Linked DNA regions of Homo sapiens. The protein of the gene in region 1 interacts with the protein of each later gene in a biochemical or structural test. Each region holds a gene or a part of one and is shown in the gene's direction. Other genes may lie near its edges.

Region 1 (5,480 bases):
TTTTCTCTCTTTTTCAGGCTTTCTTTATCCCTTTTTTTGGTGGAAAGAACACAGTGCTATGTTTTAGGCAGGGTGAGGTTTGGGGGCTCTCAGAGTAATTGTGACTATTACAGAACTCTGCCTTCTTTTGCTGTCTTTGTTCTTGACCCATTTCTGCCCTATCAGCTTAACTGCCGGTAGCAGTCCAGGCATTTTGTGAGATGCATTCTTTAACCCAGTGAAACGTTTAATAAGTAGAAAGACTTAGGACAGAAAGCTGAGAATTGGGGAATGAGGAGCTCTTGTCAGCTCAAAAGAGAGTAGACCACATGGGCTCATGTTTCAGCCATAAATCATCTTATTGTCCCACTTTGAAAAGCCACCATGGTGAAAAATAGTCCACTGACAGAGGTAATCCTGAGCATGTGAACCCATGAAATCATAAAGAGTGTTCACACTAATATATTAAAAAGCTTTTTTTTTTTTTCTTTTGAGACAGGGTCTCACTCTGTTGCCTAGGCTGTACTACAGTAGCATGATCATAGCTCAGTGCAGCTTGAACTCCTGGCCTCAAGCAGTTCTCCCACTTCAGCTTCCCCAGTACCTAGGACTACAGGTGCATGCCATTACGCTCAGCTACATCAGCTACATTGTGGGGTTTTGTTGTTGTTGTTGTTTGTAGAGATTGGGTCTTGCTGTGTTGTCCAGACTGGTCTTGAACTCCTGGGCTCAAACAATCCTCCTGCCTTGGCTTCCCAAAGTGCTGGGATTACATCTTGAGTCACCATGCCTGGCCCTAATGTGGTAAAATTTGTTTGGATTAGATTGATAAAAGAGATTTATGTGCTTATATTGCTTTCATATTCATAAACTGATTGAAATTAAGTAAAAGCCCTTAAAGGCATCTTTAAAAATGGCTATATGAAAGATTTATAATCAGTAAAATAATTCATATGACACTTGATTTTTCTTAGGGAACTTGAAAACTGTTTATTTTCCTATGTAATTTAAATACATATTCCTAAAATTTATAGTTTGCATATCTACACATTTGCTTCTGTGACCTTTTTATTATAGATAATATACATAAATGGCTGGGAGCAGTGTTTGATGCTTGTAATCCCAGCACTTTGGGAGGCTGAGGCAGGCAGATCATGAGGTGAGGAGTTCGAGACCAGCCTGGCCAACATGGCAAAACCCCGTCTCTACTAAAAAATACAAAAATTAGCTGGGTATGGTGGCACGCGCCTGTAATCCCAGCTACTGGGGAGGCTTGAGGCAGGAGAATTGCTTGAACCCGGGAGGCAGAGGTTGTATTGAGCCGAGATCCTGCCACTGTACTCCAGCCTGGGCAACAGAGCGAGACTCCATCTCAAAAAAAAAAAATAAAGATAATATACATAAGCTTTGGTTTAGTCTTAGTCTGAATTAATGAAGGTACTAATGAGCATCAGTAGTTAATATGTTAAATGTTACATTAGCTGTATTGATGGTAAGTATAAAAAAACACATTCTACCAAAAAAAAAAGTAATACACTCAGCAAGAAGTTTCAAGAGCTTTGGTTTTATTTTTAGAAGAGGCAGAGATAAGCTTTCTTACTTTTTATATTCCACAGATATGAAACATTTTTTGCAAAAGTTGATCTCACAGTTGATGGACTGCTGTGTAGATATAAAATCCAAAGAGGAGGAAAGTGTTCACGTCACCCAAAGAAAGACACATTATTCAATGGATTCACTTTCCAGTTGGTATATGACTGTCACACAGGTAGATATAAACTGATGATTTTCTCCCAGGAAATTGACGTATGATTGATGTGGCTTGGAATAATATTAGACAGTACTGTTTTGATCTAACAAGGATATGTTTCTGCAGCACTAGGTGTTAATTTAAAAGTAGGTATTTATTTTTTCTAATGCTACTCGAATTTTAAAATGTTCTTTTATTAGTATGCAGCCTAATTCCAGGTAAGTGCTTAGGTTTTTACAAGGACATATTATTTGTTGGAGAATGTCCTCTAATGACAAAAACAGAGCATCAGGAATTGCTTCTGTTGCATGTTCCATCTCTGTGACAGTAACTATAACTTTAGTATATTATCTCTTATGTTCCTCAATGTTTGCTTTGTCCAATAGAACCATGCTGCTAGTATCCACTGTCAACTTAGTTCAATGAAGAATAATCATGTATTTTCTAAAGTCTAATTTGTTTTATGTTTAGAGTTCTTAGGGAATCAGTGTTCTTTAAGTAAAGTATGTTAGACAAACAGATAAGTAAAAAGAAGTTCCATTCTACCATGACAGTCTGGTGAAAAATAATAACCTAGGTTAACACTAGGTAATTGCGTCATAAAACCATAGTCTTAGGTTATGGTGCTGTGTAGCCAGACAGTATGGGAAAAAAAATACTGTGGTTACATTTTCCAATCAACATTTTTGCTGAAATCATCGTAAGTGAAGTTTCATTTTGCTTTATATAGGGACTAAACTACGTCTAATACTTACCATAATACCTGATTTGCTCCACAATTTTAGACTTTCCAGATAAAATGCTACTTTTGGTTTATGTCAGATATCTTTTTAAAAATTGAGATTGGACCAGATGATACCTAGTATCCATTTCAGGCTTGAAATTTCACAGTGGCAGAGTAGCAAGCACTACTATTCATTATATTTTTTTCATTAAAAATACTAGTTCTCACTATAAAGCAAAGCAGAATATAACTTTCTACCAACAGAAAAATCAATTTTGTAGAAAATTTCCTCTTCCATGTTTTTTTCTGTCATTTCCTTAGCAGAAAATATAAATATTTCATATGAGTTATAGATTTTTACTGAACCTTTTTCTTCTTGGTTATTATTCCCATGTCAGACACAGCAAGATTCTAGTAACCTGAGTTTCTATTTATCGTGTGGTAGAAAAAAAATAAACAGTGTTATTGTGAAATTTAAAGAGAGATATGTCAACATGTGGCATTATAACATTGTTTGAGTGGTAAGGCTTACCTTTAACTCTTTCTTTCTGCAATGGCTTAAAAGAAGACGGACCCAAAAATGCTAAGCAAAAAAAGGACTACTTCTAGCCAATGGCAGTCTCCTCCTGTTGTCGTTATCTTGAAGGATATGGAAAGCTTTGCCACAAAAGTACTACAAGACTTCATAATTATCAGCAGGTAGATGGTGTATTACCTGGCTTTTATGAAAAACTCCCTTTTTAAGAAAATACTACTTTTAACTTGAAAAGTATAATCTTCATTTTAATACCAACTGGATAAAAATCAAAGTATTCAAATTCTTTATAATTGAATATTCAAAGACTTCCTATCAGATTTTCCATTTGCTTTTTGAGCCAAGAATGAGAATCAAAGGCACATTTAGCCAGTTTTAAATTGACATGGTAAGATAGTATTAAATATGGTTTTTCTCACCAAGATTGACTGTCTCTTACTCACCCATTAAATAGATAAACTACTCCAGGTTGAGTTTGTTGTTTTTGTTTTTTTCTTTTTTTTTTTTGAGATGGAGCTTTGTTCTGTTGCCCAGGCTGGAGTGCAGTGGTACGATCTCGGCTCACTGCAGCCTCCGCCTCCTGGGTTCAAGCAATTCTGCCTCAGCCTCCTGAGTAGCTGGGATTACAGGTGCCCACCACCACACCTGGCTAATTTTTGTATTTTTAGTAGAAACAGAGTTTCACCATGTTGGCCAGGCTGTTCTCGAACTCCTGACCTCAGGTGATCTGCCTGCCTCGGCCTCCCAAAGTGCTGGGATTACAGGAGTGAGCCACCATACCTGGCTAAGTTGAGATTTTTATTAGGTCTTATTTTCTGATACCCATCCATCCTTAGATGCTCTGAGTTGCATATAGTTTTACTAAGCAAAAGTGTCTTCTAAATAACATTATTTTGCATTTATATAATACTTCTAGTGAGAAACTATTTTCACGATTGCATTGCGTCTTCAAAGCAATCATGTGAGACTCAGAATTGAAATAATGAACTCTTATTTTAAAATCCAGTGACATGCATTTTCCCTGGTGTATTTTTTAGGATGGAATTTATTTTGGCCTCTTCTATATGTCAACTTGTTTTAATAGTTATAGCTACATTTGCCTAAAGCTATATATTGTGTTAAATAATTTACTAGTATACTTTATTTTTATTTTTATTTTTGGAGACAGAGTCTCGCTCTGTCCCCCAGGCTGGAGTGCAGTGGCGCCTTCTCAACTCCCTGCCACCTCCGCCTCCCGGGTTCAAGCAGTTCTCATGCCTCAGCCTCCCAAGTAGCTGGGATTACAGGTGCCCGCTGCCACGCCTAGCTAATTTTTGTATTTTTAGTAGAGACAGGGTTTCACCATATTAGCCAGGCTGGTCTCAAACTCCTGACCTCAGGTGATCTGCCTTCCTTAGTGCTCTTTGGGGCCTCCCAAAGTGCTAGGATTACAGACATGAGCCACCACACCCAGCTAATTTACTAATATACTTTATTTTTTTTTATTTTTTATTTTTTTTGAGACGGAGTCTCGCTCTGTCGCCCAGGTCGGACTGCGGACTGCAGTGGCGCAATCTCGGCTCACTGCAAGCTCCGCTTCCCGGGTTCACGCCATTCTCCTGCCTCAGCCTCCCGAGTAGCTGGGACTACAGGCGCCCGCCACCGCGCCTGGCTAATTTTTTGTATTTTTAGTAGAGACGGGGTTTCACCTTGTTAGCCAGGATGGTCTCGATCTCCTGACCTCATGATCCACCCGCCTCGGCCTCCCAAAGTGCTGGGATTACAGGCGTGAGCCACCGCGCCCGGCCTACTAATATACTTTAAATTTCTACTTTGATAGGATCTTTTTTCCTTCATTGATTCTAAGAGTTCTATATATTAGGACTTTTCTTTTTTTTTTTTTTTTTTTTGAGACAGGGTCTGGCTCTGTCACCCAGGCTAGAGCGCAGTGACATGATCTTGGCTCACTGCACCCTCCACCTCCTGGGCTTAAGCAGTCCTCCCTTCTCAGGTCCCCAAGTAGCTAGGACTATAGGCACACACCACCATGCCCGGCTAATTTTTGTATTTTTTGTAGAGATGGGGTTTTGCCGTGTTGCCCAGGCTGGTCTCAAACTCTTGGCCTCAAGAGATCTGCCCTCCTCAGTCTCCCAACGTGCTGGGATTACAGACATGAACCATCGCACCCAGCCCAGATCCTAGGACTTGCATGAACCATTGCACCCAGCCCAGATCCTAGGACTTTTCTTAATGCTGACACTGAACTGCTTAGCATGCTTGGAAAGTACATAGTACAAAATAGTGACAGAAAAGCTGTACTTTTTTTTGGAGCTTAGACTTAATGACTACCTTAGCCATCAAAAGTGAGGAAGACTATAGAAAGGGCTCAAACTTTGAATGAGATATTAAATGGAATGGTATCTAACATCTCTTCTAACACTTAAGATTGTATAATCTTCGGCCCGGGCATGGTGGCTCACGCCTGTAATCCCAGCACTTTGGGAGGCCGAAGT
Region 2 (6,098 bases), on another chromosome or scaffold:
CATGGTAGAGGCCAACAGTTTATTTACCATGGTGTTTTAACTTTACATGTACAATAGGGGAAATATACTTTAGGTGAATTTTAAAACGGATAAGTAGGAAAAGAGCAAGCTAAAAACAAACATACCCGCCCCCTACCCTTTATTTTCTCTTTTTTTAACAGACCCACTTGTCTATTGACCAGGTATCTGTAATATGGGAGAATTCACTCTATTCCTTTCCACACAAAGACGTCTTGGAATTTTCTAATTTCTCCTTTACTATGATTGCATTCTGTTCACATAATAGTCAAGGGTATGGAAAGAACATTTATAAGAGCAGTGTCTTTTAAAATCAATTTACTAGTTAACTCAGTACTGAGCATACATTCATCATTCAAAGATGATTCCCACAAACGTTACTCGACATACTGGTTTTCAGTATATTTTATCAAATTCAACCACGAGGGCCACCAGTTCTGCTTACGATCAGGTGACCCTTGTTGGGAGACCCCTGACCCCTTTTCTTGACATCATGCTGTTAGACCTTTAAGCTAGCTATACCGCTAACTGCGTTTTGAGTGACTGCAAAAGGGAGGCAACTTCTGCCCCGCCGAGAGCCATCCTAAGCGTTAGAAATGGCAGAAAGTTTCTTGGGACTGACAAGGCATGGGCTTCTCCTGATGCTGTCACCTTGGGCAAAGCTCCTACAGGTAAATTAGGGAGAGAATTATTTTGCCGGCGTCACGAGACGAAGAATCGAAAAAGTGTGAAAAAGGACTTCGCCCGCCCCAAAGCGCCCATCCGGCGGCGGCTATTTCCCGGGCCTCAAGCGCGCTCGAGCGGCGCAGCACAAAAGGCCGGGCGGGAGCGGGGGTCGCCGGGCGCCGCCTCCCGGTGCATCTCGGGAAGGGCTCCCGCCCGCGAGGCTCCGTCTCCCCGGCGCGGCCCGCTCGCCGTCCGGCTCGCTCAGGGCCTGGGCAGACGCGGCCCGCCCGAGCTACCGCGGGTTCCGAGACGCCTTCGCACTGCTCCTCCACCCGGGGGATCTTTGTTCCCGGAGCTGTTCCCCGCCTCGCTGCTCCCGCCGCAAAACCTGTTTGCGGAATACCCGCCGCAAGTCTGACTTGACGATGTGCAGTTTTGGGGTGCGCCAGTTGTGGGGGCATTCATAGAGGCAGCGAAGGGACCCCTAAGTTTAAACACCCGGGGAAGGATAAAGGAAGAGCGTCGGGCCCCCCTCCTCCCAACAGCGCTCGGGCGCGAACGGCGCCCTCCCGCGCTGCCGGCTCGCGCGGGCTCCGCAGGGCGCGCTGGCGGCGGCGGCGGGGCGGGGCGCGGCAGGCGGGCCCGGGGCCTGCACGTGGTGGCGATCTTTCTTCCCACCCGGCCAGGTCCCCGGGGACCACCGCGCTCAGGGGGAGGAGGAATGCCGTTCCCGGGCCCCGCTCCGGAGAGGGGTTTTACCCTCTGGGATCCCGGAATTGGAGGTGGAGAAGAGAGGAAGCAAGGGAGGGCGCGGCGTGGCGCGAGCGTTTCCTGCGCGGGGACTGCGGGGTGGCAGCTGGAGGCCACTGCAGGGGCAGAGCGGCGGGTTGGGGGAGCGACCGACCCATGGGGAGGGAAACCCGGTAGGGGGAGCAGGGAGCCGGAAAGCAGGGTTGATACATACCTGGGTGGGCGGGCTGGAAATGCCTTCCCTGGGCGCGCCGCGCAAGGCCGGCGGAGCGGGCTCCGGGTGGTCGCGGACCGGGACTGGGGAGAGCAGAGCCGCACTTGGCCAGGCGCGTGGCTGAGTGGTGTTTACATTCTGCAGCCACTCCACGTTGTGCTGCCGCCCGTGCCTCCCATTGGCCAGCTCTTCAGCCAACGCTTTGCTCCTCCCCGAGGGGCGGGCCCTCGGGTCCCCGCGTCGCTCAGGAAAGACCTGGGTTCCCTGAGGCCTTGGCGGGACAGCTAGGGCGCGCCCCTGGACGGTCACTTCCCAGCCACCCTATGGTCGCCCGAGTCGTGTCCCCCTGTTATGCGCCCGGGCTGAGCCGCAGGCTGACACCCCCGAAATCCAGGAGTTGCAGTGGGAGGAAGCAAAAGCAAACTGGCGGGAGATGCGCGAGCCAGGCGGCGGGGAGAACAGCCGCGGAGAAGGAGCCCCTGAGAGTTTCCCTACCGCCGCCGGCCGCGCCGTGGAGCGCGGTGGACGCGGGCAGAAGGCCCGGTAGAGTGGACCCCACGGCCGCTCCGGGTGGCGGGCGCGCACTGAGAGCAGGGCGCGGCGCGCGGGCACGCGGGCGGACGGGCGGGAGAGGGGAGCGCGCTGTCCGGAGGTGTCAGTCTGAGGCGCATGCGTGCGGGGCGGGACCGGCCCGGCCTATATATTGGGTTGGCGCCGGCGCCAGCTGAGCCGAGCGGTAGCTGGTCTGGCGGTGAGGAGTTGCTGCGCGTAGGGGGGATGTGGGAGGAAAGAAAGCCCAGTTGGGCCGATCACTTACCACAGGCGGGAGCCTCAGGGAGGAAAATCGGGAGGGCTGAGAACTAGACGACTGGGGGTCATGGGTTCCCGCGTTCCGTCCCTGTCAGGAACCTTGGCAGGGGACCGGGAAGCGGCTGGGCATGGAGAGCCGCCCCTCATTCTAGGGGCTTCTCTATCCCACCCTCATTTGGGGAGCTATCCCGTGGGAGAGAGGATGGGAGGCCGGGTCCCCTCCATGGGGAGAAAAGTTCCCAGCCAGCCCAGTCTCCCCTTTCTTTAGCTCCTTTTCCTGCCCTCCCCCACGCCCTCCGCTTCCCATCTGGAGTTGGGGTCCCGGCGCCCCTCCGAGCGGCGGTAGGGCGGCAGGGCCGGGAAGGAGGGAAAGGAGACTGGAGGCCGTGACACCAGTCTTGGTTCCTCCGCCCCCTGCTTCCCCGCCACCGCCGCTCTCCAAATTGGCGCGGAACCGGCTTCTCCACAGCATTTCGCCTCCACAACCCCCTCTCCCCGCTGGTCCAGGAGGGAGGCGGGACGTGGGGGCGCTGCCCAAGCCCCACTCCCGGTGTACGGGGGAGAGGGTGGAGGACCCAGAAAAACCCGTTTGAGGAAGATGTGCCTCCCTGCGCGTTCAAGGTGTCAGGAGTGCTTGGTAAATTTTTGGACACTCGCGTTCCAGCTGTACATTCAGTTGAGGAAATGCAGGCTTGTATCCAAAATGAATTACCATGAGCTAGCTAACATAGCACAGAAGATGGCAGGGTCACAGGGCCCAGGCCCCCTTCGGAGGGACTGAGCTTTCACCTGCGAATCAGCGTCTTACTGGCACTTGGAGAATGTGAATGACAATGTACTTGACTGCGGCTTTTCCTCTCCCCCCTTCAGAGGTTTTATACACCTGAAAGAAGAGAATGTCAAGACGAAGGTAACATTATCTGTCTTAGAGACATGTTTCAAATTAGTTGCTGCCTTTAACTTACTAATTACACTTCCTTTTTAAAAATTCACTACAGTAGCCGTTTACAAGCTAAGCAGCAGCCCCAGCCCAGCCAGACGGAATCCCCCCAAGAAGCCCAGATAATCCAGGCCAAGAAGAGGAAAACTACCCAGGTGATTTAAGGAGAAAGAGGGAGGAACGAAATTCCATGCTGGGACTTTAGTTTACCAATGGTCTTTTCTATTTTCCAGGATGTCAAAAAAAGAAGAGAGGAGGTCACCAAGAAACATCAGTATGAAATTAGGGTAATGCAGAACTGGGCTGGGTGGGTTTGGGGGAAAAATGGAGGATAGATGAATAAGAATAGAATTATGTGTTTATTGCTTTGCGATAGATTCCTCTGACACTTTTACTTTTAATGCCCCTAGAGGTCAGCAGGAAGGCGCCTATCTTTGGGTGGTTTCTATGTGCCCGAATCCTACTACAGCTGCAGAATAAGTGCCTTCAAGCAGCTGGTTCCTTTTTGTAAATCCCTCCCTCTTGGAACTGCCTGGTGCACCAGGGCCCGCCTAATCTGTCCAATATACTGCTCTTTGTTCCCTCGCAGACTCTAGTAGACGGTCCTAATAGCTGCTTCTTGGGCATAAATAGGATGTGAGATCACTGACAGCCTGGCACGCAGCCCTTTGGTACCTCTTCTTCCTATGTGTTTTACAGAAAGCAGCACTTTGGAGATAGTGATTGCGTTTGAAACCAGCATTATTGGGAAAAGAATCGTTTAAGTAATCGATTCCATTTTTAAGGTTTTGCTTTCAAATATTCAAAAGTATCAGAGCACACTTTTTTTAAAAAGAGCTTATTTGAAAAAAAAAAAAAAAGGTCCCTGCTACTATTGCTAGATACAGAGAACGATTCTGTGATCTTGAAAGTGATTAGTATTTTAGACTGCAGATGCATTTTGTTATTACTGTCCTTCTTCGACACCTGGTGTCTTCTATTACCAGAATTGCATTTTGTTGTCTAAAACATCCTATTACTCTTTATAAAAATCAATATGAGCTATATGGCTTGTTTATAAAATGTGAATGTCAAATTAGCTATATTGCCATCTATGTTAGCTAAAATTATGATTCTTTAGACATATTAGCTTTCATTTATGAAAGATCCATTACAAAAACTAAGGTTTTCCTTGCACAAATTGATATTTTTCTTTTTTTTTATGACAGAATTGTTGGCCACCTGTATTATCTGGGGGGATCAGTCCTTGCATTATCATTGAAACACCTCACAAAGAAATAGGAACAAGTGATTTCTCCAGATTTACAAATTACAGATTTAAAAATCTTTTTATTAATCCTTCACCTTTGCCTGATTTAAGGTAAGAAAAATTTCAGTAATTTTATTTCAAAGATATAAAGTTGTGCTGATTTAATACATGGCACTATTTTGTCTTTTGCTTTCATAAAGTAGAAAAACGTGTAAAAATTGTTTACTAATATTTAATCATATGTCATTTTATCTGAGAGTAGTGCTGGTTGCAAATGATATGGGTATTTAAAACACTGATTCTATAAAATTATTTTCATTTGCTTGCTGAGTACTATAAAGACTTAACAGGACTGAATTAGTTTTTTGTTAAGATAGAAACATTTTTACATGTACAGCTTTTTCCTTTAAAATTTTTATTCGTGTTTCTTGCAGCTTCAACTCAAAGGAAGCTTTTCCAATTGATGTATCAACCCTATTTATTTCTTACCAAACTTAATAAGGTCTATACTTAATTCTTTTTTCTAGTCCATGAGTGTAACTAAGAGGTACAGCTTATACAAAACATGTACTGTATTAATTTATGATTGGCCTTAATAAGCAATTTAATGGAATCAGACACTTAAACTCACCAATCCCCCTTTCCCTGCATTCTGTCCCACCTTACCCACCCCATAGGTGATCCTGCTGTAGATGATCTATTTAGAGGTGATTGAGACTTCTCTTGACTGTGATCACATGCCTTATGTGTTTAACTTTTTTGTATTGCTCTTGAGAAAACATTTTTTTTCACTTTTAATTGCATTTATTTTAGTGCTGAATTTACTCCTGTGCCATAAGTTTTTGTTTCTTCAGTTTCTTCTGGGATATCTTTTTCTTCTGGGCAACCGCCTCTTCTGGTTTAGGAACAATTTGTTCCTTTTCACTAAAGATCATTTCGATGTGGCAGGGAGAGATCACGTGTGAGTTAATCCGACCATGAGCTCTGTAGGTCCGTTGGCACATCGTAGGTGCTTTGTTCACTTGGAGATGCTCAATGACCAGAGAATCTACATCTAAACTCTTAAGTTCAGCATTACTCTCTGCATTTTTAAGCATGTGCAGCAAAAATTCAGCACTCTTTTTGGGCCACCAACCTTGTGTCCAGTCCCACTGCTTGGCCTGGGTACACCTACCAACTCCACCATTGTAATGTCAGAATGGCACATGCTGTTTCTGTAAAGTGACATTTTAAAAATACTTCATGGTGTTTTTTTTTTTTTTTTTTTTTGGAGACAGAGGTTTGCTGTTGTTGCCCAGGCTGGAGTGCAGTGGCACGATCTCGGCTCACTGCAACCTCCACCTCCTGGGTGCAAGTGATTCTCCTGCCTCAGCCTCCTGAGTAGCTGGGATTACAAGCATGCCACCACGCCCAGCTAATTTTTTGTATTTTTAGTGGAGACGGGGTTTCAC
Region 3 (5,480 bases), on another chromosome or scaffold:
ACCCTGTGGGACTGGGAACAGCCTGAACACAAGAACTTGGTCTTTGTCATCTTTTTTTTTTTTTTTTAAGGAGAGTCTGGAGTACACTGGCACAATCATGGCTCACTGCAGCCTCAAACTCCTGGGTTCAACTGACCCTTCCTGCCTCAGCCTCCTTAGTAGGTGGGACTACAGGCACATGCCACCACGCCCAGCAAATATTTGTTTTTATTTTTGTTGAAATGGAGTCTTGGCTGGGCGCGGTGGCTCACGCCTGTAATCCCAGCACTTTGGGAGGCCGAGGCAGGCGGATTACGAGGTCAGAAGATTGAGACCATCCTGGCTAACATGGTGAAACCCCGTCTCTACTAAAAATACAAAAAATTAGCCAGGCATAGTGTTGGACGCTTGTAGTCCCAGCTACTCAGGAGGCTGAGGCAGGAGAATGGCATGAACCCAGGAGGCAGAGCTTGCAGTGAGCCGAGATCGTGCCACTGCACTCCAGCTTGGGCGACAGAGCGAGACTCCGTCTCCAAAAAAAAAAGAAAAGAAAAATCAGCCTGGAGTTGCTTTCAGACAGGAGTTTTAGTCACCACTTAGGGGTTACACATCTTCATGTCCTATATCAGACAGAGGCCAAGTTGTGGGGCGTTCATTTTATTGGTGTATGACGTAAGAGGATGCTGTGTTTCCAGACTTAAGTAGACTAGATGGTTCTCAAAGAACTGTTTTCAGATTTTCATAATTTCTGCATACCACGTATGGTGTAACTCTGGTGCCTCACTGGTAATGAAAACAAGAAAATTCCTTAGAAGCCTGGAACTCTTGTTAAATAGGTAGCTATTTGTATGAACAGGAAACTGAGTCAGCTTATTAGGAAATGATAAGATTCTGCAGAAGAACATATTGTATAGTTTTCCGTAGAAAGAGGAGAGGCTTAATTCCTTTTTGTTTTGAACTTAGATCAAATTACTCATTAAACAAGATGATGACCTTGAAGTTCCCGCCTATGAAGACATCTTCAGGGATGAAGAGGAGGATGAAGAGCATTCAGGAAATGACAGTGATGGGTCAGAGCCTTCTGAGAAGCGCACACGGTTAGAAGAGGTGAGTTTGGGTCTCTCACAGCTATCCCAGAGGAACTTGCACTCCCAGAGGTCGGAGGTCATCCTGAAGCCTGCCAGGCCAAGGTGTACTGAGGGCAGTGGGAAGTGGAAAAGTTAGCAGGCATGGATGCTGACCCTGGGCTCTGCTGTCCCCTGGTTATGTGGCCTCAGGCAGGTTACTGGACTTCCCTAAATAGTGGCTTATCTGTCCAATAGGATCCTGTCAGAAGAAATGAAATTTAGGACAGCTCAGCTCTGCGGCTAGATAGCAAAAAAATAATGTAGAGAAGCAATAAATAGTGTAACCCCCACCCCTTCCTTTTCTACTGTCTTCTAGCATCACTTACTATGCAGTCACTGCAGAGGAGCAATGTGGGTCTGCATCCCTTGGCCAGGCCCAGTCCCAGACAATTACTGCAGGGGAGGTATCTTGTATGTGAAGATACCAGTGGTTTTCACCATGTGGACCTTGGGTCTGAGCTGCTTAGTGATCTGGGGCTGGGCCCAGTGGCCTACCCAACACTACGGCTTCTGCAAGATGTAAAATGACAGGCAGAAGGTGGTTGTTCCCATAGCACGGAGGGCCACGTGATGCTTTTGAAGATGGCCTCTGGCTCCTGATCTTGGTGTGTGACCTAGAATTTGCCCCCGTAATGTTCTAGGGTCTTCCCTTCATCCTCAGCCTGACATTTCCCGGTAATGTGCTTTTGGGAAGCCTTTTTGAGCCATATTTGAGATGTTCAAGACATTCTTCATTTGGGGAAGGGGCAATGCCCTTCAAACTGAGGCATGCTTCTCTCTTCTTTCTCACCTTTGTCACCCCTTTCACTAGGTTTGGGTGTCTCATAGGGAACCTCTTGGACCCACTGTTATATTTTCTTACCTCTTGCCCAGCTCTTTGTTCTATTTTTTGGAAGACTTTTTGTTTTTTGTTTTTTTTTTGTTTTTTCCCCAGACGGGGTCTCTCTCTGTTTCCCAGGCTGGCCTCAAACTTCGGGCTCACTCGATCTTCCCACTTCAGCCTCCCAAGTAGCTGAGACTAAGCACATGCCACTACACTCAGCTTGGTCTTTATCTTCTAATCTTTGGTTTGTGAGGGGTCCTTTTTGTTCTCTGAATTTTTTTTTATATAGCATTCTTTTAACTATCGATGAGCTGCATTTCATTGGTTCCCAAATGTCAGTATCCAATGGGATTTCCCGGGAAACATTCATGTTCTACAGATAAGTCTTGGAATTTTCCACTCTGACTAATAAACAAATATTTTTTAAGCACTTACTATGTGCCAGGTACCAGTTAGGCCCTGGGGTGCGGGTATGAGAGCAAAGTCCTGCCTTTGCAAAGCTTTCCATTGGGGGAGACAGATACTGATCATGTAAATGAGCACAATTAGGGAAAGCTTTCAGGTATCAAACATGAGTTAGCAGGGGATGGAGCCAAGAGGATTCCTGGGCAGAGCATCCATAGACACTGCAGCTCTGAGGTGGGAAGGAAAGTTTCAAGGAAGGCTTGGCCAGCAGTGCCAAAGGAACAGGCAAATGAGAACAGACCAGTGGGTTTGGCAATAAAGAGAAGGTAGGTTGTCTTGATGAGATACAGGAAAATAATCAGCGTTTCCTTTTACATACTTAACACATCAATTTGGAATTTGTGTTTGTAAATGTTTAACATAATATTCATGGATTATAATAGGCATAATTTCCCACCAACTTTTTATTTTGAAATTTTTTGAAATGTATACAGTGGTTGAAAGGATAGTACAGTGAATATCCATGTACCTTCAATCTAGAGTCAACAGTGGATCATGACTGTAGGTGGTCTCAGCTACTTGGGAGGCCAAGGCAGGAGGATTGATGAAGCCCAGGAATTTGAGAACAGCCTGGGCAACATGAAGAGAACCTGTCTCAAAAAAAACAAAAACAGTTTTTCACATTTGCCACATTTGCTTTCTTTCTGTGTATTCTTTTTTCTGTATTATTTGAGAATAGATTGCAGAAACTGATATTCTTTTTTATTTTTTATTTTGTTTTTTCTTGAGATGGAGTCTCACTCTGTCACTGAGGCTGGGGTGCAGTGGCACGATCTCGGCTCCCTTCAACCTCTGTCTTCTGGGTTCAAGCGATTCGCCTGCCTCAGCCTCCCAAGTAGCTAGGATTACAGGCATGCACTGCCACAGCCAGCCAGAAACCATGATATTCTACACATTCTTTCATAAGCAGCTCCTAAGAATAAGGACATTCTTCCCCATAAACACAATGCCATTGTCATACATAAGAAATTAATAATATCCTAATATCATGTAATATTCAGCCCATATTCAGGTCTCTTTAATTGTCCTCAAAATATATTTTGCAGCTATTTTTATTTCTGAACTATTCTCCAATCAAGATTAAGACATTTAGCTATTCCTCTTTACTGTCTTAACCTAGAACCATACCTTACCTCTTTTTTTTCTTTTGTTTTTAATGACATTGAAGGCCAGTTCTCTTTTCTAATATTTACTACTACTTGTTTCTTCATGGAGTACTTTAACTTGCTTCTCTATCCCTGCATTTTCTATGATCTGTAAATTAGGTCTAGAGCGTTGATTTTAATAACATTAAGCATTCTTGAGAAGAATACTTTTTATATAATTAAAACCTGTGCATGATTTATAACTAAGTATGTGTATATTAGAGGTATATATATATTTTTTTGAGACGGAGTCTCGCTCTGTCGCCCAGGCTGGAGTGCAGTGGTACGATCTCGGCTCACTGCAAGCTCCTGGGTTCATGCCATTCTCCTGCCTCAGACTCCCAAGTAGCTGGGACTACAGGTGCCTGCCACCACGCCCAGCTAATTTTTTATATTTTTAGTAGAGACGGGGTTTCACCGTGTTAGCCAGGATGGTCTCGATCTCCTGACCTCATGATCCTCCCACCTTGGCCTCCCAAAGTGCTGGGATTACAGGCGTGAGCCACCGTGCCCGGCTGCTTTTTAGAGGTATATTCTTAGAAATATTTTTACCAGCCTGGTGTGGTGGCTCAAGCCTGTAATCCCAACACTTTGGGAGGCCAAGGCGGGTGAATCACCTGAGGTCAGGAGTTTGAGACCAGCCTGACCAACATGGAGAAACCCTGTCTCTACTAAATACAAAAATTAGCCAGGAGCAATGGCAGATGCCGGTAATCCCAGCTACTCGAGAGGCTGAGGCAGGAGAATTGCTTGAACCTGGGAGGCGGAGGTTGTAGTGGGCCAAGATCACGCCACTGCACTCCAGCCTGGGCGACAGAGCAATACTCTTGTCTCAAAAAAAAAAAAAAAAAAAGAAATATTTATACCAGACTGGACAACATAGCAAGACACTGTCTCTACAGAAAAATAAAATAAAAATTAGCCAGGCATGGTAGCATGGTCACATAGGCCCGGCTACTTGGGAGGCTAGAGTGGGAGGATGCCTTGAGACCAGGAGGTTGGTTGAGGCTGCAGTGATCCATGATCACATCACTGCACTCCAGCCTGGGCAACAGAGCAGGACCTCATCTCTTAAAAAGAAAAGAATGAAATATTTTTATTAATAAGGGTGCACATTCAAAGAGGTTTAGAGACAATAGGTTATAAATAATTGTTTTAAGGAGTTCTGCTATAGGCCGGGCGTGGTGGCTCACGCCTGTAATCCCAGCACTTTGGGAGGCCGAGGTGGGTGGATCACGAGGTCAGGAGATTGAGACCATCCTGCTAACACGGTGAAACCCCATCTCTACTAAAAATACAAAAAATTTCCCGGGCATGGTGGCAGGAGCCTGTAGTCCCAGCTACTCAGAAGGCTGAGGCAGGAGGATGGTGTGAATCCAGGAAGCAGAGCCTGCAGTGAGCTGAGATCCACCACTGCACTCCAGCCTGGGCAACAGAGCAAGACTCCGTCTCAAAAAAAAAAAAAAAAAAAAAAGAGTTCTGCTGTAAAGAAAAGAGGAGACATGGGGTCGAGAATCATTTTTACTTGTCTTTTAAAGGTTGGATGTTAGAGCTGGACCCCAGCAAAGATGAGAGTCCGCTATAAAAATAACCATAATTATACTTAATCTACAGGTGCTATAATATCGTGGCTCAGGTCACGGGTTTCAAATTTTGTATCTGCTATAACAGCTTTGTGACTGTAGGCAAGTGACTTAACCTCTGTGTGCCATTGTAAAATAAGGAGAATAACTAGACTTAATTGTTTTGGTTCCTACTGATGTTTAACAAATTACTCCAGAACCTAGCAGCTTAAAACAACCTTTTCCTTATGCTCATGGATTCTGTAGGTTAGGAATTTGGGCAGAGCCCAGTGAGGATGACATCTTTTTGATCTGTGATATCTGGGCCCTCAGGTGGGGACTCAATGGCTAAGAACTGGAAGCATGGCTCAGACATCTG
Region 4 (5,480 bases), on another chromosome or scaffold:
TGTGTGTAATTTTTAAAAAAGACAAGGTCTTGCTATGTGACCAGGCTGGTCTCAAACTTCTGGCCTCAAGTGATGCGCCCACCTTAGCTTCCCAAAGTGCTGGTATTACAGGCGTTGAGCCACTGTACCTAGCCAACCCCAATAGTTCTTCCTCATAATTTATCTCATCCACGTAATCTAGTGTGATTTACAAACTGCTCTGCAGCTCAATAACTTTCTGTAACCTTAAACACAAGTAAAAGTGAGCTGCTACATCCAAGGAAGGAGATGGCATTGGCGGTGTGGAGAGAGGAGGTGAGAAATGGTCAGATTCTGGATGAATTCTGAGGTTAGAGCCCATAGGAGTGGTAGGATTCTGGGTTTGTTGGATGTGTGTTGTGAGAGAAAGAGAAGAATTGAAAGTGACATTTCTAATATTGCTTTCACACAGCCAAGATTCTACATTGCTCATCTGGGCATCTGAGCCTCCTTCGAAGTTTCCTGTCACAACTGTCCTCTTGACAGCATGGATGGTAAGACCTGGCAGTTTTCTGTTACTCTGTTTCAAGGAAAACTAACCTTTTGTCCATGGACTTGTTATTTATTCTACCTGTAAAATGGTGAAAATGCTCCCCAGCCCTCAGGTATTGTCTTAGTGGTTCTGAAGCAATCTCACATCTCACAGAGGTCACTGAATGTTACTTGCTTTTATCAGGGGAGATTTCTTCTGGCAACAGAGATTGTCTTTCATAATTACAATAGCTGGTAGGTGTACAGTGGGCCAGGCACTGCTCCAAGATCCTTGTGGAAATTAACTGATTCAGTCCTCAGGCAAACGTATTTTATAGGCAGAAAAACAGGGATGTTTAGTAACTTGTCACAGTTCAAGCTGGCATAGCAGGGCTTTGAACCAGGCAGTCTGACTTCAGAGTTTACATTTGATAATGAAATCTGCTGAAGCGATATTAGTCTAGCTCTGACTTAAGTTTTTATTAATATCATCCTTTCTAATTTTGTTCATTTTGCAAGGATGTGTACAAAATGTTTACCTAGAAAAGAGATGTTGCACTAATTAGCGATCACCTAAAATGATTGTGCTGGGCTGGACGCAGTGGCTCACGCCTGTGATCTCAACACTTTGGGAGGCCGGGGTGGGAGGATTGCTTGAGCCCAAGAGTTCAAGACCAGCCTGGGCAATAGAGTGAGACCTCATTTCTATTTTTAAAAAATTAAAATGATTGTGCTGGTTGTGAAGAGATCTAGTTGCATAATTGAACTCATAATCTGAAACTGGGTTTTTTTAAAAAATTCAAACATATTACACTTTGCCCTTTAAAACAAAACTTGAAATTCCTCACACTGTGATGCACAGTGGACCCCCGTTGTCCCTGAGAGATGTGTTTCCACACTCCCAGCAGATGCCTGAAACCCAGGATGGTACCAAACCCTAGGCATGCTGTGTTTTTTCCTGTACATACATACGTGTGATAAAGTATAATTTATGAATTAGGCACAGTGAGAGATGAACAACAATAATAAAATGGAACAATTATGACAATATACTGTAATAAAAGTTATGTGAATGTGGTCTCTCTCTAAAGTATCTATTGCACTCTCAAAATATCCATTGTACTGTCCTCAACCACAGTGACCATGGAAAATCAAAACCACAGAAAATAAACCCTCAGATAAGGGGTTATTCCTTATGTGAAACTCATTGCCTGATGCTATCATGGTAGTTTCCTGTTTCTTAAAATTGGCAAATTGCCTACAGGGCAGGTTATATAATACAAAGCATCACTTTTTGCTATCAGATTGACATGAAAATAAGAGGTGAATGGATACCTGTTCTCTAAGAAATCATAGTATCTATCTGGAAACAGTATAGGTCAAGAAAGAAGAAATCATAATGTTTAGGCTGGGTGCGGTGGCTCATGCCTGTAATCCCAGCACTTTGGGAGGCCAAGGTGGGTGGATCACCTGAGGTCAGGAGTTCGAGGCCAGCCCGGCTAACATAGTGAAACCCCATTTCTACTAAAACTACAAAAATTAACCTGGTGTGGTGGCATGTGACTGTAATCCCAGCTACTCAGGAGGCTGAGGCTGGAGGATCACTTGAATCTGGGAGGCAGAGGTTGCATTGCATCGAGATCCCACTACTGCACCTCCAGCCTGGGTGACAGAGCAAGACTCCATCTGAAAAAAAAAAAAAAAAAGAGGAAAAAGAAATCATAATATTTAGTAAGAAAATCTCATTTGATTGGCATGGGTTCACAATTTGGCCGGTGTAGAGGAAATCGGAGACTGTATGGTACTTGGGATATACTGTTGAACAATGTTCCTGCTTATATTTTAGTGGAGGGAGAAAGATAACAAAACAATAAACGGGTAGTTAGTAGATGGGAGACACTGCTATGTCTTTGTATGCTGACAGGAGTGCTTCAGAGGAGAGGGAGAAACTGGGGATTCAGGAGCCAGAGAGGTGGTAATTGTAGAATGAAGTCTTTGAGAAGCTGAGAAGTGGGACCCAATGTAAGAATGTAAGTGGAAGAATTGGCTGTGAATAGCACTAGATACTTAGTCCCAGGAGGGAAAGCAGAGAAGATACGTTCAGAGTTGGGAGTGAAGGATGAGGAAGTCTGATTACATCTATTTTTTCTGTAAAATATAAGCCAAGGGCTGGGCGCTGTGGCTCACGCCTGTAATCCCAGCACGTTGAAAGGCCAAGGCAGGTGGATCACCTGAGGTCAGGAGTTCGAGACCAGCCTGACCAACATGGAGAAACCCCATCTCTACTGAAAATACAAAATTAGCTGGGCGTGGTGGCACATGCCTGTAATCCCAGCTACTCGGGAGGCTGAGGCAGGAGAATCACTTGAACCTGGGAGGTGAAGGTTGCAGTGAGCCGAGATCGTGCCATTGCACTCCAGCCTGGGCAACAAGAGCAAAACTCTGTCTCAAAAAAAAAAAAAAATACATACATACATATATATATATATATATATATATATATCATCAGCTAAGAGTAAAGAGTGGGGAGTGGGCATAGGAGGTTTGAGGAGAGACAGTGTGAAGTGGTCAGAGCCTGGGAAAGCGAATGAATTGAGGAAGTGTGGGAATCTTTAAGCAGTGCTGAATGCTTGTTTGTTATGGGTGTGCAAAAATTTAAAGTTAGACTGAGGCAGGGTCTTGTTGATCATACCTGTAGTCCCAGCACTTTAGGAAGCCAAGGCAGGAGCATCGCTTGAGGCCAGGAGTTCAAGACGAGACTGGGCAACATGGCAAGACCCCATTTCTACAAAAAAATATTTAATAAGCTGGGCATGGTGGTGTGCACCTCTAGTCCCTGCTGCTTGGGAGGCTAAGGCAAGAGGATCGCTTGAGCCCAGGAGTTTGAGGCTATAGTGAGCTAAGATTGCAACACTGCACTCCAGCCTGTGTGACCCTGTCTTGAAAAATAAATAAATAAATAAACAAACAAAAAAGACCAGTCAGCATGGTAGCGAGTCTTTCTCCAGGACCATTCACCAGCCAGGGAGCTGAGTCTTTAGAAGGCAGTGAGTGATGATGGTGTTGAACATGGATCCACAGGGAGGGCATTAGGGGCAGGGGGTGATGGACAGGAAACACATTGTAGGTAGGCTGATGGGTTAGACATGTGGATGAAGCTGAAGAGCTGCTGGATGTGAATACTAGAGTGAGCGGGCTGAAAGGATGGGAGGTTGGATCACAGAGGGACGTTCAGAGGTCAGTTGTGCTTTGCTGTGATGAGTTGGAGTTACTATGGGAGTGGGTAGCTAAGATGGGGAGTGGATGAGAAACCCAGCGACCAAGATGTTGGCTGGATCATCCTTGCGGAGGTTGAAGTGCCCCAGGAGGGTGATAACAGTAGAGATGGAGGGGAGGACCGGGGGGGGCATGCATGATACACATATGATGATCAGCACATGACAGTGCCATGAGGGGTTCTTGATGCCAGCGTCTGGTGTCTTGAACTTCAGAGAGCTGTGATCTGGAAAAAGACTGAATCATTCCAAAGTGACAGTGATAAAGAAGACATCAGGAACCTGAAGTTGATCAACAAGTATTTGTTGCATGCCTAATACGTGCCGAACACTATTCTAGACATTGCCATGTGAGGTGTGAACAATTAAATGCTTTCCATTCAAGAGGCTTCCAGGGGTAGCCAGATTTCTGTTGTAAGAGCCACTGGGGATCCGAGAAACGTGCTGATAGTAGATTTCACATCCCAGGGGTTTGAGAACAAAGAGGCTGGGAGATTGAGTCAGCGTAATACAGAGAAGACATGATTTTTGGTGGTGACTGAGGTAAACGGGGTTGTGAGGCACCATGGGATTAGCCCTCGTTCTCTTGTGAAGGGTTCAAAGTGAATAGTATGGGGTCCCCAGGCAGCATTTTCCACCTGTGGCCCCCAGTGGTGTGAGCCAGAGCCTCTTCCCGGGGTGTGCCCTCTTTGGCAGACGGGAACAAGAGATGGTGGAGGCCTCTTTGCTTCCTTGCAGGCATGTGACATTCTCAGAGCACAGGGGGCTGCCTGGCCTCTTCTCTCTTGCACTGTGCAGCCTTGGAGTCTTTGTGGACTAAGCAACTCAAGCTAATCCTTATACAACCTCTGACTGAGCATTAGGCCCCATCATCAGATTCTAGGCCTGAAGTTTGGCTACTGGCTTTTTCCTTCTGGTAAGGGAGTGTAGAGTGGTGGAAAGGATATTGGTTTGCTGATCTAGAGATTCCTTATTAACCCAGCTCCTGAACTGATCTGTTTCTCCATGTGATCCTGAACAAGCCCCTCACCCTCTCATACTCTAGCCCCTGAATTTCAGACAAGGAGAGTAGGTCAGATATCCTTAATATTTTTCCATTGAATACCTCTGATTTTATAAACAAATAGTGCCCAAATAGGGGGGAAAAAAGAGCAAAGAAAATAGATAAATCAAGAAAGAAGAAATCCGATTGGCAAATAAACAAACAATTCTTAACCTCACCAGTAATCCAAGAAATGCAAATCAAAACAGTGAGATGCCTTTTTAAATCGTCCATCAGATTGACAAAAAAATATTTAAGTGACACATCAGATATTGATGAGGTGGTGGGGAGAAGTGGCCCTTGTGTACAGCTCTAGTGAGAGTGATACAGATGATAGCAATTATTTAGGGAGATAGTAAGGGCAACAGAGTCCTCAGCAGAATTTCCCTTTTAGCAAAAAGCAGCCCCCAAGTAATTTCTAACAAGGCCAGCCAGAAAAATCAAGCGGACATAGAAAAGCAAGCTAGTAATTTGCACGGATGAATACCTGCAGCTGTGCCAATAGGAAAAGGCTCCCTGGGGGCCAGGCGTGTTCAACATGGCGGCCCTTTTTCTGTGTCAACCACGTGTACAGTAAAGAAACAGACAATATGGCGCTGGCCAGGTAGAGAACCACCTGCATAATAAAAGATTAGGGTGGGGCAGCCAGGTTTTCCACCCTATGCAAATGGCAT

The links.
Region 2: the proteins of ORC3 (region 1) and CCNE2 form a complex in vitro, tested with the Homo sapiens proteins (one large-scale study listed by BioGRID and IntAct).
Region 3: the proteins of ORC3 (region 1) and CDC45 form a complex in vitro, tested with the Homo sapiens proteins (one large-scale study listed by BioGRID and IntAct).
Region 4: the proteins of ORC3 (region 1) and MCM10 form a complex in vitro, tested with the Homo sapiens proteins (one large-scale study listed by BioGRID and IntAct).

Annotation. Positions count from the first base shown.
Region 1 is NC_000006.12:87,606,078-87,611,557, forward strand, and holds part of ORC3 (origin recognition complex subunit 3), read left to right. Parts: intron 1-1,595; coding exon 1,596-1,747; intron 1,748-3,018; coding exon 3,019-3,152; intron 3,153-5,480. UniProt on the Homo sapiens protein: Component of the origin recognition complex (ORC) that binds origins of replication. DNA-binding is ATP-dependent. The specific DNA sequences that define origins of replication have not been identified yet.
Region 2 is NC_000008.11:94,891,478-94,897,575, reverse strand, and holds the start of CCNE2 (G1/S-specific cyclin-E2), read left to right. Parts: upstream 1-2,374; 5' UTR 2,375-2,399; intron 2,400-3,328; 5' UTR 3,329-3,354; coding exon 3,355-3,368; intron 3,369-3,456; coding exon 3,457-3,553; intron 3,554-3,631; coding exon 3,632-3,685; intron 3,686-4,606; coding exon 4,607-4,758; intron 4,759-6,098. UniProt on the Homo sapiens protein: Essential for the control of the cell cycle at the late G1 and early S phase.
Region 3 is NC_000022.11:19,482,920-19,488,399, forward strand, and holds part of CDC45 (cell division control protein 45 homolog), read left to right. Parts: intron 1-942; coding exon 943-1,086; intron 1,087-5,480. UniProt on the Homo sapiens protein: Required for initiation of chromosomal DNA replication. Core component of CDC45-MCM-GINS (CMG) helicase, the molecular machine that unwinds template DNA during replication, and around which the replisome is built.
Region 4 is NC_000010.11:13,163,698-13,169,177, forward strand, and holds part of MCM10 (protein MCM10 homolog), read left to right. Parts: intron 1-430; 5' UTR 431-505; coding exon 506-512; intron 513-5,480. UniProt on the Homo sapiens protein: Acts as a replication initiation factor that brings together the MCM2-7 helicase and the DNA polymerase alpha/primase complex in order to initiate DNA replication. Additionally, plays a role in preventing DNA damage during replication.